Regions from separate parts of the Homo sapiens genome. Here region 1 is linked to region 2. Evidence: fine-mapped QTL for protein levels in blood plasma. A gene starts in region 2. The other region holds a variant in brackets. All regions are shown on one strand. Distances are from middle to middle. Region 1 overlaps SELP (selectin P). Region 2 holds the start of SELP (selectin P).

Evidence for each region. A credible set is the group of variants that fine-mapping cannot tell apart. PIP is the chance, under the fine-mapping model, that this variant and not a neighbour inherited with it causes the effect. Sun 2018 read protein levels with aptamers (SomaScan).
Region 1: its variant is the best candidate, but not a certain one, in a credible set for the plasma level of the SELP protein (Sun 2018, PIP 0.52).

What each region holds. Positions count from the first base shown.
Region 1 is chr1:169,607,340-169,615,652 of GRCh38, reverse strand. It overlaps SELP (selectin P), which reads left to right. Exons shown (of 17, transcript NM_003005.4): 4 at 1,960-2,067; 5 at 2,539-2,724; 6 at 3,251-3,436; 7 at 3,976-4,161; 8 at 5,964-6,149. Among named protein-coding and RNA genes, the nearest start is that of SELP, 19 kb to the left of the region's middle. The variant G/A (reference allele first, on the strand shown) is at 4,601.
Region 2 is chr1:169,626,502-169,634,842 of GRCh38, reverse strand. It overlaps SELP (selectin P), which reads left to right and starts at 4,719. Exons shown (of 17, transcript NM_003005.4): 1 at 4,719-4,771. The coding sequence starts at 4,769.

The sequences.
Region 1 (8,313 bases), 19 kb after region 2:
ATATTAGCTCATCCTACTGCTCTCCCAGTCAGCTCTCTACCCCTTTCTGGGCTATGCCTCCCTAGAATTATCTCTTATCAGATAACCTTGACTGCCACTAGCTGTTTCAATATGCCACTACTTCCCCTTCACACCCAACCTTCAAAATCCATTTCTGCAAGACAGTCTTCCTCAATAAAGCTTGCCAAAAAAATTGCAAGATAGAAAAAAGATAAAAAATTACTGGCATAAATGATGACACTCCTCTAACCCACAACAGTGGTAGAGACATCACTAATTAATACAACTTTACCTGAACACAGATGGGTTTTATCTCCACCAACACAGTACTCTAAGCAGCCACTACCATTGATTGTCGTTTTGCCATCTAAGATGTAAAGGATGTAGAGAAGCATCAATTATCCATGGGAGATGAGAAATAGATATATTTACTGTAATATGAAATTAAGTTTGATTGTTGGAATAATTCTCCACATGTCAGGAATTATTAGACCTCAGAGCAGGCTATCGAAAAAAGATTTATTCATTGAATCATCATGAATAAATCATCTTCTCCCTGGAGATCCAAAGGAATAGACAAATTGCTAACCTATCTATTCAGGAAACCCTGAAATGGGATAGAATACAGAACATTGTCTCTTTTTTTCCCCTAGAGTTCTGAGATCCCAAGGAAGCTATAATTGGGGAAACATTTGTATGCTCCAAGAACATAGGGCAGGCAGGGGTTGCTACTGTAAGGTATTAAGACATTGGTGGGGTTAAGGTCAGGGAGCGAAGTGAATAGGATGTGGACCAAACCTGTATCCATTTAGCTGCTATTGCCTCCTACATCTTCTCTTTATTTGAACCCTTCCCAGTGTCTCAGTGCAGCTTCACCAAATTCACTGGCTGCCACAGGAACTTCTTCCTATAGAACCTTGCATGGTTTATAGAATTTTAGTATCTCAGAATTGAGAGGAAACATAGAGATCATGTAGCACAGCATATCCACATATGACATATGGATATTCTTTTGTAATATACTTCCAAGTGAACCAGCATGTGGACAGGGCTTAAGACAGAGGAAGTAACCACCAGAAAACAGTTCAGCCATAGAACTTACCCCCAACTATGACCTCATTAATAAAAACATCTCAGTGCTTTGAAAGTATCAATTCTAATACTAATTCTCATCAAGTGCATATACCCTAAAATACTTTCTTGCAGGAAAGAAACCATGGCCCTTCTCTATTCTGTCACCTGAGTGGCACTATCTTGGTGAAGAGGACATGGCAGTTCAGCCATAGTCAGTACTCTCTTCGCCTGCTGTATTCAGACTCATGAAACATCACCTCATAAGATTGTTTGTCCTTTACCATGAGTACGTCTTAAACATCTCATTTGGCTCCTCTGTTTCTCCACTGTAGGATTCTGGACATAGATTTGAAGCAAATGAAAGGTGAAAGGGTTTGGGCTCTAACACTGTGCAAGCTGAGCTCAGAGAAGTAACTTGCCTAAGGTCACATAGCAAGTAGGCAGCAGAGCCAGGATTCATATCACACCTGTGTGACCCCACGCCCCACATCTGGTGCCTAACCTCAATGCAGTAATACGTGACATTGGGCTTCCATAATAAAACAATGCTTGGTTTGAAAACCACAGCCCATTTTGTACCACATAGGGTTTCTCTGTCCACACATCTGTCATTGGCTCCATTTGTCCCTCTGTGTCCACACACAACAATACCCTCCTTAGGAAATACTAAATGCAGTATGAAATGGGAGCCACGCAATACTCCAGCAGGCCCCTACAATGCTTTTCACAAGGGACAGGTTGGCTCTCTAGAAGATACTGTGCTTCCCTCTTGTCTGGCTAGCTCAGTCCTATCTGAGAGGGGATGAGTCTGTGGTCAAAACGAGAATTCAGCCTTTCCTCACATCTGTGAATGTCCATGACTCTGACCTTTCCATATCTATGCAGCCTCCTGCCAGGACATGTCCTGCAGCAAACAAGGAGAGTGCCTCGAGACCATCGGGAACTACACCTGCTCCTGTTACCCTGGATTCTATGGGCCAGAATGTGAATACGGTGAGGCTTCCTTTTTGTTGATATTATTTTGGTTTTATGCTAGAGATGATGCCAAGAAGTAAATAAATCATGTTGAAGTCTCTCCAGTGAGAATAGGATGGTACCAGCCCCCCTCTATCATCTGTCTCCTCCACTCAGTGTCCCTAGACACACACTCTAGGTAAAAACATTTTATTCTTGGGAGAAAACATTGACTCATAAATTTCAAAAAAGAAAAGGGAAAGGGAAAGGAAGCAAAACCAACAGAACTTTCAGGCTAATTTTACTTGTTTGAAGTAAAAACTTGTGAAAGAATGACTATTTCCCAAGATGCAGCCAATACAAAGAGACCAAGTAGAGATGGATAGCTTGGGTTAAAAGTTTAGAAAATTAGAGTTAAGAGGGTTACACAAATAGTTACAGCTTTCAGCAAACATGACATTGCTGTTAATTCTACATGGAAAATAAAAATCACTATTTTGTCTCCTGCAGTGAGAGAGTGTGGAGAACTTGAGCTCCCTCAACACGTGCTCATGAACTGCAGCCACCCTCTGGGAAACTTCTCTTTTAACTCGCAGTGCAGCTTCCACTGCACTGACGGGTACCAAGTAAATGGGCCCAGCAAGCTGGAATGCTTGGCTTCTGGAATCTGGACAAATAAGCCTCCACAGTGTTTAGGTATGTAGACCTTATTCTTTTCATCCTCACTGACATAGAATTTTGGGGGAGAAGAGGACACAATGAGCTTTCTCCATTAAAAAATGTGAGAAATAATGACCATCTAGGTTAGATGGAAAACTCTGGTTATCACTGTTAACTGTCAACCAGAGTAACATTAATTTCAATTTTCATGGTATTTTTTTATGGGTAGAGTGACTTAGTCAGTTTAATTGTTGATTCGCAGGCAAAAACATTACAAAGGGACCCCTCTTTCCCTTTGTTAATTGTAAAGTAAACAGAGTACAATGATGAGGACTTAGGGGTTAAGAATTATTAATTTGATAATTTTACCTAACTTCTCTACATGAAAAACAAGGGTGTTTGATCTTTCCAAGCAGCTATTGAAAACACCATTTAACCATTCTAGTGCATCAACCTGCCTGCCACTTTGGGAAGGTGTGACTGCTGCAGAATTTGAAGGCTTCCAAGGTGATGGACAAAATTTGTCCAAGGACTCACACTATTATTCTGTGGTTGGTTTTAGCTGCCCAGTGCCCACCCCTGAAGATTCCTGAACGAGGAAACATGACCTGCCTTCATTCTGCAAAAGCATTCCAGCATCAGTCTAGCTGCAGCTTCAGTTGTGAAGAGGGATTTGCATTAGTTGGACCGGAAGTGGTGCAATGCACAGCCTCGGGGGTATGGACAGCCCCAGCCCCAGTGTGTAAAGGTGAGTTTCAGGTAGTTGGGATGTATAATGTCCATTGCACCCAGTCCTTACTTAGTGCATAGATGAAATTGACCAGCTTATGGAGAAGCTGGCCTGAATTGCCAAAATTTAATTCTCTTCCTACCTGCCATTCAGCTAGATTGGGTTCATCTGAGATGAGAAAGGAAAAAAATTCCTTTCTTTCCCCAAACACAAATGCAGGCAGTTTCAGAATGGCCTCATTCATAATTTCCCCATAAGATTAGAAAGGGTGGCCTCTACATCTATAAGTGGACACTAGAAGACCTACTGAGACAGGTTTATAGAAGTATAGGGAATAGAGGACATTAAGAATACAGCTTGGAGGAATCTTTGTTTTTAACAGACTCAGATCACCCTGGGAACTGGTAATCCAAGTCTGGACAAACATCATTAGGGTCTCTTGACCTTTACATCTTGCTAGCTCCACCTGCATTTCAGAGGTGGTTCCACCATTGCTCTCTGTGTGGCTTTTCTCCTTTCTCAGTATCTTTCTCTTTATCCTTGGTTATTCTCTCCAGCTGTGCAGTGTCAGCACCTGGAAGCCCCCAGTGAAGGAACCATGGACTGTGTTCATCCGCTCACTGCTTTTGCCTATGGCTCCAGCTGTAAATTTGAGTGCCAGCCCGGCTACAGAGTGAGGGGCTTGGACATGCTCCGCTGCATTGACTCTGGACACTGGTCTGCACCCTTGCCAACCTGTGAGGGTAGGATTTTTCATTAGCAACCTCCATTCTGTCCAAGAAGGAATCATGGCATGGTAGAGAGGCCAAGGGCTCTCAGTGTCGGGGTGATCTCTTCTAAGTTCTTGCACTAGAGCAAGCTCTTCAACCTCCAGGAACCATGGTTTTCTCATCTGTGAAATGGAGCTAAGAATTGCAAGGTGCTTGTGAGGATTAAGTACATAAAAAGTATACAATTAAATAGCATGTATAAAGTACCTAGCATAGAGCTTCTGCTCTACTGACATATCCGAGGTATAGGACCATGTCCTATACTTGAGAGGGAGTTGGGAGCAGCGGCTAAGGTGGCTAAAGAGAGTGGTTCACCATGTAGTCTTTGAGGGTAGCCTTTGACAAAGAAGCAAAGGAAGGAACACTGCATCGAAAAAGTGTGTGATGCAATCCCAGGCAATTACATAATTCC[G/A]CCAAAATGAATTCTCTGCAATTGCCTCACACCCTCAGTTTATAAGGCGGACAGTGGTAATGGGAGAATAGGAAATTTACGATAGATTAGTGAATTCCCAGACCTGGATGACAAGCCCAACCCTGCTACTATCTAGCTATGAGACTTTAGAGAAGTCACTTAACACTTCTGAACCTCACTTTTCTTGCCTAAAACATAAGAGAGAAGAGAGAAACACTAGAGGATTTTGGTGTTTTTGTTTGTTTGTTTGTTTGTTTGTTTGTTTGTTTGTTTTGAGACAGAGTCTCACTCTGTCGCCCAGGCTGAAGTGCAGTGGCACGATCTCAGCTCACTGCAACCTCTGCCTCCCAGGTTCAAACGATTCTCCTGCCTCAGCCTCCCGAATAGCTAGGATTACAGGCAACTTTTTGTATTTTTAATAGAGACTAGGGTTTCACCACTTTGGCCAGGCTGGTCTCAAACTCCCGACCTCAAGTGATTCACTCACATCAGCCTCTCAAAGTGCTGGGATTATAGGTGTGAGCCATTGTGCTCAGCCGGATTTTTGGTTCTTAAATGCTCTGAGTCTGTAAAAACCAGAGGTCAAAGCCCAGAGCAAAGAGGTAGTCTTTACACTTTGAAAAGTTTCAGAAATAGCCTGGAAATGAAATGCTTTATCAAGGAAGAGCATGAGGAAACCAATCTTTATCAGAACTGAGGTCACTCAGGGCTTAATTGTGCTCAGGAATTCACTTTGGCTGCACTCACTTGGCAACTGAAGTCTGATTAGGATGACATCCTGTGTTCTAGAGACAAAGCCCGGTCAGGATCATTTTACAGGACTAGGTAACAGTGTCAACAATAAGCTATGCTAGTCCAGCTTTTTTTTTTTTCCCTATAAGTCCAGCATTTTCCTGTATATACTCTTTTCAGGTTCAATTTCACAGATAATGTCAATATTTAATGAGCACTTTCAATGTACAAAACACTCTGCTCAGCTCCAGAATAAAACTATGAATGACTGAGCCCAACTTCGAGGAGACCACGGTATAATGGGGAAGAATGACAATCATGTATGAACAGCGCAAGAACAGAGGCTGTGGGAGCACATTGCAGGGGCTTCTACCCTTAGTTAAGGTGGGAAGGGAGGGCTTCCTAAGGAAAGGGAAGTCTAAGCTGAGACCTGAAGGGCAGGTGAGAGTGAGTCAGGCCAAGAGGGGCATGGGAAGGTGTTCCAGGCAGTCTCTCTTTTGGAAAATGGAGGTTTTAGGGTTCTGAACACACTGAAAATGTGGACAGGAAAGATATAGCATCTAGGAATTTTTTCTGAGGAAGAACCCGGCCCTTCCATTACCTGGCTTTAGAAGATACCTTTTCCACTTAGCTATTTCGTGTGAGCCGCTGGAGAGTCCTGTCCACGGAAGCATGGATTGCTCTCCATCCTTGAGAGCGTTTCAGTATGACACCAACTGTAGCTTCCGCTGTGCTGAAGGTTTCATGCTGAGAGGAGCCGATATAGTTCGGTGTGATAACTTGGGACAGTGGACAGCACCAGCCCCAGTCTGTCAAGGTACTGTAACAGTGGTAATGTTTTTCTGTGTGTCTCAGCTCGTTAGAGGCATCAGCATCTGCACTGAGCATTGGCATGCCTTTCTTTATCAGATATTCACTGAGAACCTACTATGGGCCATGTCCTTTGTGCTTGGGACCAGGGATGAGATGAAACGGTGCGTGAAGCCAGTCTTAGGCACATGTCCACTATAGTATAGTCAAGGTGAGGTTTGCACTGATTGACACATATAGGGTGCATTGGAATGAAGAAGATGGGGCTTGGGGGAATAAATCATGCATGAGGAATAGCATGGGATGGGGAAGGGTAATGGACAAGGTGTTTAGCTCAGTCCTGTCACTTCCTGTCCTTAAGCTAGTGGTTTAGACTCTCTGAGGCTCAGTATCTTCTGTAAAATGGGGCTACTATTATCAGCCTTACCTACCTGCCTCACTAGTAGTTGTGAATTAATGTGTGTAAACGCAACTTTAAAACTCTTATAGGATTTATAGGGAAAATGATGATGATGACATGTTACCTTATAAATCACATGTCTGTGGTCTGATTTGACAAAATGATCCTCTTTCAATATGTTAGGTTTCTAATCTTTTGCTCTTATACTAAGGCACTCATGGGGGGCGGGTGTGGTGGTTCACAAGGATTATTATTTTTTTTACGAGGAGTACCTCACACTAAAGTCATGTTCCAGAAGTGTAATATTGACATTTTGTGTTTTCATTTACGGAGACCTCTGAGCAATCTATGTGACTCCTCTGGGTTCCTAAGTATACCTTGATTTTAAAATGAGGCAGTGGTTTGAAAGCAGGTCTTGAAGAGATATTTGTGCACCCATGTTCATAGCACTATTAATCACAACAGTTAAAATGTGGAAGCAACCCAAACACCCATCAATGGATGAAAGGATAAGTAAAAAGTATTCCACATACTTACAGTGGAATATTATTCAACCTTAAAGAGGAAGTAAATTCTGACCTCTGCTACAAACATGAATGAACCTTGAAGACATTATGCTAAGTGAAATAAGCCACTATGAAAGGACAAATACTGTATGATTCCACTCATATGAGGAACTTAGAGTAGTCAAAGTCATAGAGACAGAAAGTAGAACGGAGGTTGCCAAGGGCTCGGCGGAAGAGGGAAATAGGGAGTTATGGTTTAATGGATACGGAGTTTCAGTTTGAGATGATGAAAAGAGTTTTGGAGATGAATAATGGTGATGGTGGCACAATAATATGAATGTGCTTAATACCACTGAACTGTACACTTGATATTGGTGACATGGTAAATGGTAAATTAAATTTCATGCTACGTATATCTCACTATAATAAAAAATTGAACAGCAAAAAAAAAAAAAAAGAAAAAACAAGAAGGCAATAGAATAGATGGCTATACACCATGATGCTGACACTTAGTCTGAGTTATGGAATGTATTGTATATGTTATCTGGGAGAAAAAGACACAATGAGCTCTTTGACACACTTAAAACGGATCATAAGGGATTATTCAAGCCATTGTTGTCTCCAGGAAGGTAAATGTCTAATCAAGAAAAGATAGTTGGATATTCTCTTAAGTATCCAGAGATGTGGTCTCACTAACCCCCTTCATAGGCCTTCTGAATGTTTCCCACTCCTGAACTCAGTGTCTGCATGTGACGCAAAGCCTTAATGATATTATTACTATCTATTACTACCACTGCTACTAATATAGCAGCTAATGTTCATTGAGCACTTTCTATGATCTCAGTCTAACTCTATGAGGTAGTTACAATTATTACTACCATTTTAAAGATGAGAAGAGACAACACATGGAATATGTGTGCTCTCTTCGTATATGGTTATTTATTTTACATCTTTGAGATCATGGTGTATATTATAATTTTTACTCTGATTTTTTATTTAACATCATACATTGAGACCTCTCTCCTATCTTTACAAGTTAAAATATATTATTTTTAGTGACCTTTAACATTCTTTTCATGGATCCACCATCATTAATTTCCACCCTCAATTAATGGCATTTGTGTTTGTTTTCAATATTCCGCTCTTACAAATAATGTCTTCACAAAAATCTCTAAATAGATTTTTTGGTATGCATCTTGATTACATACTTAGCATAAATTCTTGGGTCCAAAAGCATGATAACTTAAAAATTATTGACACATGTT
Region 2 (8,341 bases):
TTTTCTCCTTCTTAAACTACTGTAATGTGAACATTAGCTCTCTTTTTTAATTTTTAATTTAATTTTTGTTTTTATTTTTTGAGATGCAGTCTCACTCTGTCACCCAGGCTGGAGTGCAGTGGCATGATCTCAGCTCACTGCAACCTTTGCCTTCTAGGTTGAAGAGATTCTGCTGCCTCAGTCTCCCCAGTAGCTGGGATTACAGGCATGTGCCACAATCCCTGGCTAATTTTTTTGTATTTTTAGTAGAGACTGGGTTTCACCATGTTGGTCAGGCTGGTCTTGACTCCTGACCTCAGGTGATCCACTCACCTTGGCCTCCCAAAGCGCTGGGATTATGGCATGAGCCACTGAGTCTGGCTGAATGTTAGCTCTCTTGATGCTGTCCCATAAATCTTGTAGGCTTTCATCATTTCTTTTCATTCTTTTTTCTCCTCTCACTGTATATTTTCAAAAACCTGTCTTCAGTTCACAGATTCTTTCTTCTGCTTGATCAAGTCTGCTACTGGTGATTTCTACTGCATTTCTCACTTCATTCATTATATTTTTCAGCTCCAATTTCTTTTATGATTTCAATCTTTCTGTTACATTTCTTATGTTGTGCATTTATTGTTTCTCTGATTTCACCAAATTGTTTCTCTGTGTTTGCTTCAAAGTAACTGAGCTTCTTTAAAAACAATTATCTTGAATCCATTGTCAGGCCATTTGTAGTACTCCATTTCTTTTGGGTCAGCTACTGGGAAATTATTGTGTTTCTTAGGTGGTGATATTTTAATTTGGGTTTTCATGTTTCTTGCTGCCTTACACTGCTGTCTGAGCATCTGGTGGATCTGCCCCAATTTCAGGCTGTATGGGCTGACTTTGGTGGAGAAATACCTTCTTATGTGGAATAATGCGAGGATGCTGGCTGGGTGGGATGCAAAAGTTCTGACTTCAGTAGGGGCAAAGCTGTGTGGTCTCCATGCAGATCTGTCAGCTGAGGTTGGTGTTAGTGAATACTACAGGGATCCTTAGAGGCCAACACTGTGGGTATCTACAGTGGCAATGAGGCTGTTGAGGTTTTCAATTGTGACAAGTCCTCCATATCTCTTTTTTTCCCCACCTGGGAAGTCATGACTGAGGACATCCCTCTTGGAATTAGGTCTAACTTGCAGGCCTGCTCCTGGTGGTGGTGACACTGGTGTCTGATGAACAGTGCCCATGGAGTGGCCAAGAGCCAAGGCCTGAAGCATGGGCATGCATGGAGGGACCACAGCACCAGATTCAATTGTAGCAATGGTACCAGTGCCCAAGGCACAGGCATACTTACTATCACATTGATAATGGTGTGTAAAATGCAGGTACTTATAAAGCAGCTAAGGAGCCAGGGACTTTACTGCATGCATACGCAGAGCTACAGTGGCTCCAGGATCCAGGGTGTGGGCTAGCTCTCCTTGGTGGCTGAGCTGGTGACTAGAGCATGGACAGGCACAGAGAAACCTTGACTCTAGGACCCAGGGTGTTCACTAGCTCACTATAGTGGTGGCTCTGGTGTTGGAGGTGTGGGTGTGTGTAGTACAGCCTCAGAGACAGGGTCTGGAGCGCAGGTGTGCACATTACTACAGCAGCTCTGGAGTTGAGAATATGGGTTACCTTTCTACAGTGGCTGAACTAGTGTCTGGAGCAAAGACTTTCACAGAGAGAACTTGGCTTGGGGTCCCAGGGTGAGATCTAGTTCACAACAGCAGTGACTCCAGTGTCTGAGACATGAGGAGGTGCACTGCAGCCACAGAGCCACAGTCCAGAGTGTGAATATCTGTAGAGCAGCCACAACTTTTGGGGATCAGGAACACACATAGACTTGTGAGAGGTGGTAACCCTGGCCCCAGTCCTGGGGCAGTGCAACAATAGCTGCTTCTTGGTGAGGGGGTGTGAGGGGTAGTGCAACTGTGTTTCCCTTTTTAGCATCCTGCTATGGGAATGGCTGTTGGATAAAAGATGCCAGTGTCCTCTGTGGAGCAGGACACTGGGGGCCTCAGTGGCTCTGTGTCACATGACTGACACAGATAGCCTACAAATTTCTTTATTCGTAGCTATCTCCTGGTGTCTCATATATGCCAGTCTCACCGGTGATTCTTCTACATGGATATTCTTTCTTTTCTCCATTGTGTTGTTCCAAATTCTTTAACAGGCTCTTGAGCCCCATCCCCCAACTCCCCACCCTTGTGAGGGCTATTTTGGTTTGTGTATAACTGTCTATGTTTGTTTTTTTGTTGGGGCATAAGGCTGACATCTCCTACTCCACCATCTTGCTAATGTCACCTGCATAGGAATCTTTTTATGCTTTCCTTATATTCACTAAAATTTAACAATATCAAACTTAAAAACATATGATCAATTGAACTTATTAATATCAAACTTATTATAAATAAGAAACTACCAGGCTGGGCATGGTGGCTCATGCCTGTAATCCCAACATTTTGGGAGGCTGAGGTGAAAGGATCACTTGAGCCCAGGAATTCAAGACCAGCCTGGGAAATATAGAGAGACCCTATCTCTAGAGATTTTTTTTTTTAATTAGCCAGTAGTGATGGCACACATCTATAGTCCCAGCTACTCAGGAGGCTGAGGTGGGAGAATTGCTTGAGCCCAGGAGGTCAAGGCTGGAGCAAGCAGTAATCATGCCACTGCACTCCAGCCTGGGCCGCAGAGTGAGACCCTGTCTCAAAAAAAGAACCTACTAGTCTACATACCACACTTCCTCATCCCCATCTGAGACTATATATATTTTTTCTAACATGAGGCAATGCCAAAAAGAGGGGCTGGTGAGTGAAAGTAAGAACAGAAAGACATGGAGGCAAGTCTTATAGAATAATAGCCAACACTTAAACTTACACTTAACAGCGTGATAGGTATTGTTCCAAACACATTAAATTCATTTAATGGTCCTTACATGTCTATGTATTTGGTGATTATTATCCTTATTATTCACATTGCTGAGTGTATTATTCTGTTCTCATGATGCTGATAGAGACATACCCGAGACTGGATAACTTATTAAAAAAAAAAAGGTTTAATGGACTCACAGTTCCACGTGGATGGGGAGTCCTCACAATCATGGTAGAAAGCAAAAGACACGTCTTACATGGCAGCAGGGAAGAGAGAGAAATGAGAACCAAACAAAAGGGGTTTCCCCTTATAAAACCATCAGCTCTCATGCGACTTATTCACTACCATGAGAACAGTATGGGGGAAACCACCCCCATGATTCAATGATCTACCAGGTGCCTCCCACAACCTGTGGGAATTATGGGAGCTACAATTCCAGATGAGATTTGGGTGGGGACACAGCCAAACCACATCACTGAGGAAACTGAGTTATAGGGAGATTAGTAACGCCCAACACAGCTGGTAGGTGGTGGAGCCAGGCAGTCTGACTCTAGGGTCTGGACTCTGAACTGCATCATGCTGCCAAGAAGTTCCTCATTTTTTCCTCTCTCTAAGTTTCCCTTATTCCCCTACAGTCATTCCTTCAACAGCATTTCCTTCACCATCTTTTCTACTTCTACTATATAATTAATTTTTTCTTCTTGGTCCCAAATTCCAACGTGCAAATGCAGCCTTATATACCCTAATTCATCTTTACCTTTAGACTTTCTTCCAATGTTTCTACTTCATTCCATTTTAAATTTATCCATGAGATGCCTATTTACAAGCTGTAACCATCATGAAGTGAATGAAGAATAATACCTACTACTGTACAATAGAATTCCAAGAGTATAAATAGGAGTTATGGCTTTCTGACTTGAAACTAAATACTTGATACTTGATTTTGCTGTCTGAGATCAATCTGAAAAGTAATAATAATCACTAACATTTGTTGAGCATCAATTGTGGGCCAAGTGTCATTTCAATCACTCTGTACATATTAACTCATTTCATCCTACAACAACCCGGTGAGGCAAGTTCTGTTATTCTGTTTTACAGTTGAGGAAACAGAGGCATAGAGAGCTTAAGTAGTTTGCCCAGTAGATAGCCAGAAGAGGAGCCAGGATGGGTCTCGGGCAGTTTAACAGCACAGCTGAAGTCTTAACCACTATGCCAACAGCTTTTTGGTCCTACACATCCCATGGGAAGAGGAAAATAAAAAGGTATCTATTTGTATACCTTTTTATTTCTGATATAAGAAGCAGAATTCCTTTCACATGACCTATGTCTATTTAATACGTCATTTTGAAACTTACCAATAAAATTTCCCAAGCGCCAGAAAACTGTTAGTGGCTTTTTCCATTTCTCTCTATTTTTTTTTGTGCTACTAATTTTGCTTCTTTCCCTCAGAAGGCTGCCGGAATAGTAAACATTCACTGACATGTCATAATTACTGGAAAATGGGCACTGGAAAATCACATTGTAATTAATTCAAAGCATGTTTTCCAAATGTACTACTTTAAATTGGAGCTTATATCATAATCCAAGGAAACCTTTGTGTGTGTACTGTTCCCACATTGCTCAGCCTGGGATATCCAGGAGTAATTCACCTTGCGCCTGCCTCCAGACCATCTTCCATGGAAGGGGGTGACCCCTTGCCTCTTGGCAACCACTATTTCTAAGCTGCCAACATTACTCTTGCATTATCAACATTCTAACTTCATGGGAAGGGCTGTGGTGAGTTTCTGGAATGTGAATAGGAAGTTGTTTTTCTAAACAGCCTGACACTGAGGGGAGGCAGTGAGACTGTAAGCAGTCTGGGTTGGGCAGAAGGCAGAAAACCAGCAGAGTCACAGAGGAGATGGTGAGTTTATTTTTTTCTGCATGGGAAGTGGTTGAAGTGAGTTGGAGTGGTATGGAGTAAAGTCAGGCAGGTAAAGGTTCAGAAAGTGAGGAACAGCGATAGCCATGGAGTTTTATGTTGAATTGCCTATTAGATTTTGTGAGTACTTTTAAACTTGCTGTCCACTTTGACCCTCCCAACACCCTTGTGAGTTGAGGTTGCTATTTCTATTTTACAAATAAAGCCATCGTGGTTTACAGAGGCTGTGTTTTATCTAAGCTTCACTGTTAGGCTACATGATGTTGGGATCTGGGGCCTGTCCTCTGGCTCCGCAGCTGCTGTTCCTCCTACTAGAATTTATAGGGGCTCTCTGAGAATAGATCATGGTAAACCTGTCACCCCATTTTCCAAGACTGTACTTCTCTCTGGGATAAATGATGGAATAAATGGAAGACTGGGTAGGTGCCCTGGGACAAGCTTACAATTGAATAGTTTCTCATCCCCATCCCTCCCATTTCTTTCTGTGAGCCTATGAATCTTCTGGGACTGATCTGGAATATCCACATAGTTTCCTTTTCTGCCCTAAGACTCAATCTTGTTAATGACTCAGTTTCTTCTTCTATAAAATGGATATAGTAATAATACTCTATAGTTTCATCATGAGGATTAAATAAGATTTTGCTGAAAAGCATCCAGATCTGAGCCTGACACATAGTAAGTGATTAGTAAATGTTAGCCATTATTGTTACAATAAAAAGAAAATTCTTAGGAATAGTGGGGTTTAGGATTCAGGGAAGATCCAAGGATAGCTAGGCATTTTGAACTCAGCAATGTTATATGCTCATGGATAAGATGCACGTGGTTAGGCTACTTCTAATTCAGGGAAGATCCAAGGATAGCTAGGCATTTTGAACTCAGCAATGTTATATGCACCTAGATAAAATGCACATGGTTAAGCTACTTCCAATTTTCCTCAGACTTTCCAAGAGTATCCCACATAGTCCCAGGGTCCGAAATCCTGCAGTCTGTGGCTATGGAGGAACCAGGCAGGTCTCTGTTTTTGAGCACCTTTCTGTGGGACTCCAGAAAAAAGTACCGCATACACCTGATTCATCCTACTGCTTTGCTTTACTATAGCACACTTTTCAAGTACTTATAATGTGGGTTTCTGTGTTGGGGAAAACAGGAATAAGAGTATGATAAAGAGAAGAGGAAGGAGTTTGAGCCTGTCTTAAGTTTGAACCACAATGACCTAAGGATATGAATTACTTTTGTCCTGTCTTTTTGCATGTCATACTTCTGAATTGGTTAACTTAAATGAGCAGTTATTCCTCTCTTCCTTCTACTCTCCTTGGCATCCTCCTCTATTTCAAAGGTATGAACTTATTGGATCAGAGAGTTCTTTGAGATTTTGATGAAAGTTACAACTTGTCTTTCCCAGATGAAAGCAAAAACATCGACATAAACACCAACCTTTAGAGACAACCACAGGAGGTTCCCAGACCTCCATGTGGATCCCAGGGTAAGAACCCTTCTCGATTGCCTCCTGGGCTTTATGTTCAGAAGCCCCTCTCTTGGTACCCTGAAATTAGGCTTGAGCTCTACAGCGAAGTGCTAAGGCCCCAGCCCTGGAATGGTTTTTAATATTTCAAAGACAAGACCTCTTCCTTTTCCTCTGAGCACATTTGGCCCCAAAGATTCAGAAACCTCAAACTGCCTGTGTAAATTTTGCTTCAAGTTCAGAGAGTGGCTTTAATTAACTTTTAGGACCTGAGAAAATGAGGATAAGGTTTTTCTGGTGGGGTATTTTCAATCAGATAGATCTCAGAGGAGTAGCTCTTGATTGGGAACTTATAGTTAAATTGCACTGATGTTTGTCAAAGTTTTAGCGGGCTATGGCCGGGCTCAGTGGCTCATGCCTGTAATCCCAGCACTTTGGGAGGCCGAGGCGCATAGATCACTTGAAGTCGAGAGTTCAAGAGCAGCCTGGCCAACATGGTGAAACACCATATTTACTAAACTTACAAAAACTGGCTGGGCATGTTGGCATGTGCCTGTAATCCCAGCTACTCAGGAGGCTGAGGCAGGACAAACTCTTGAACCCAGGAGGTGGAGGTGGCAGTGAGTTGAGATCACACCACTGAACTCCAGCCTGGGTGACAGAGCAAGACTTGTCTCAAAAACAAAACAAAAAAAAAGTTTTAGTGGGCTAAGGAGCAGGTCTGGATTTTCGTCCATTTATACCTTTTAACCACCTTATGTGGCTTCCAGTCCTTACTCTTCTTTTCATTACCTGTTTTTCAAAATGCAACTAAAATAGTTCAGACTCTCCTGGGCTAGCCACCAGCTCTTAGAATGTGCATCTTCAGAGATCTTTAAGTAGAAGCTTATTGATCAAATCCTCAAAAATCAAAATGACTTACTACATAAAAAACTGTGTTTAGAAAAAACCCTGGACCTAAACCTAGAGAGTAGGCACACAGTGGTTTTATAAATGACATTCATTATATTGTCTTCAAGGTGTCTAATCTTTTTGATTAAAAAGTAAATCAGAAACTTCATGAAGTCAAATACAGAGCAAATCCTCACTATTTGTAGAGATATAACTCATCTCTGATCCAATAGACTTTTTAAAAAATTTTAAGTGTCGTACTTTATTTTTAATGCTAATATTTTACTCAAAATAATGGCAATTGGTAGTCTAAATTAAATATATGCTTGGATTCTAAGTGTTGATGTCCTGGGTCCCTTCTTGTCTATATTCATAATTTGCTCTTTGGCTTAGAGACAACCTCTTTTCTCACTGTATTTCTTTTTCCACCCCTAAGCTGGGCTACCAATATCTGTGCCACACCACTAACACCACCACCGTCCAGAAACATAAGGGAACTAATGTATTAGCTGTAATAGCTTGTAACATCTGGGCTTTGCTACCAACAAGTTGTATAGTTCTGCATCCTCAACAACTCTCATATTCACCTCCCCTATTTGCATTCCCACTGATGCCAGACCAAACCTGTCCCTCTTTAACTCTCACTGGGACCATTGCAATAGCCTCTTCTTTTGCAGTGCAATCTCCCTGATTGTAACTCATTTAAAAAAAAAAAAGTATCGCACTACTCTCACCCCTATAATATCAGCATTTTTGGAGGCCAAAGAAAAAGTATTGCTTGAGCCCAGGGGCTCCAGGCCAGCCTGGGCAATATAGTGAGAACTTATCTCTACAAAAAATTAGCCGGGTGTGGTGATGCATGCCTGTAGTCCCAGTTACTCAGGAGGCTGAGATGGGAAGATCACTTGAGGCCAGGAGGTGGAGGTTTCAGTGAACCCAGATCATGCCACTGCACTTCAGCCTGGGCAACAGAGCAAGACCCTGTCCCCCAGCCCCACAAAAAAAATCATACCACCATTAAGTGCATGTGTTCATGATACTTCTCTGTTCAGAAGTATCCCTTCTGCCAACTGGTATTTGTGACCCACAAGATATGGTCTCAAACTACCTTTTCAGTTAACCTCTAGGATCTCCCAATCTTCAGCAGGCTGGAGTGCAGTAGTGCCATCTCAGCTCACTGCAACCTCTGTCTCCTGGGT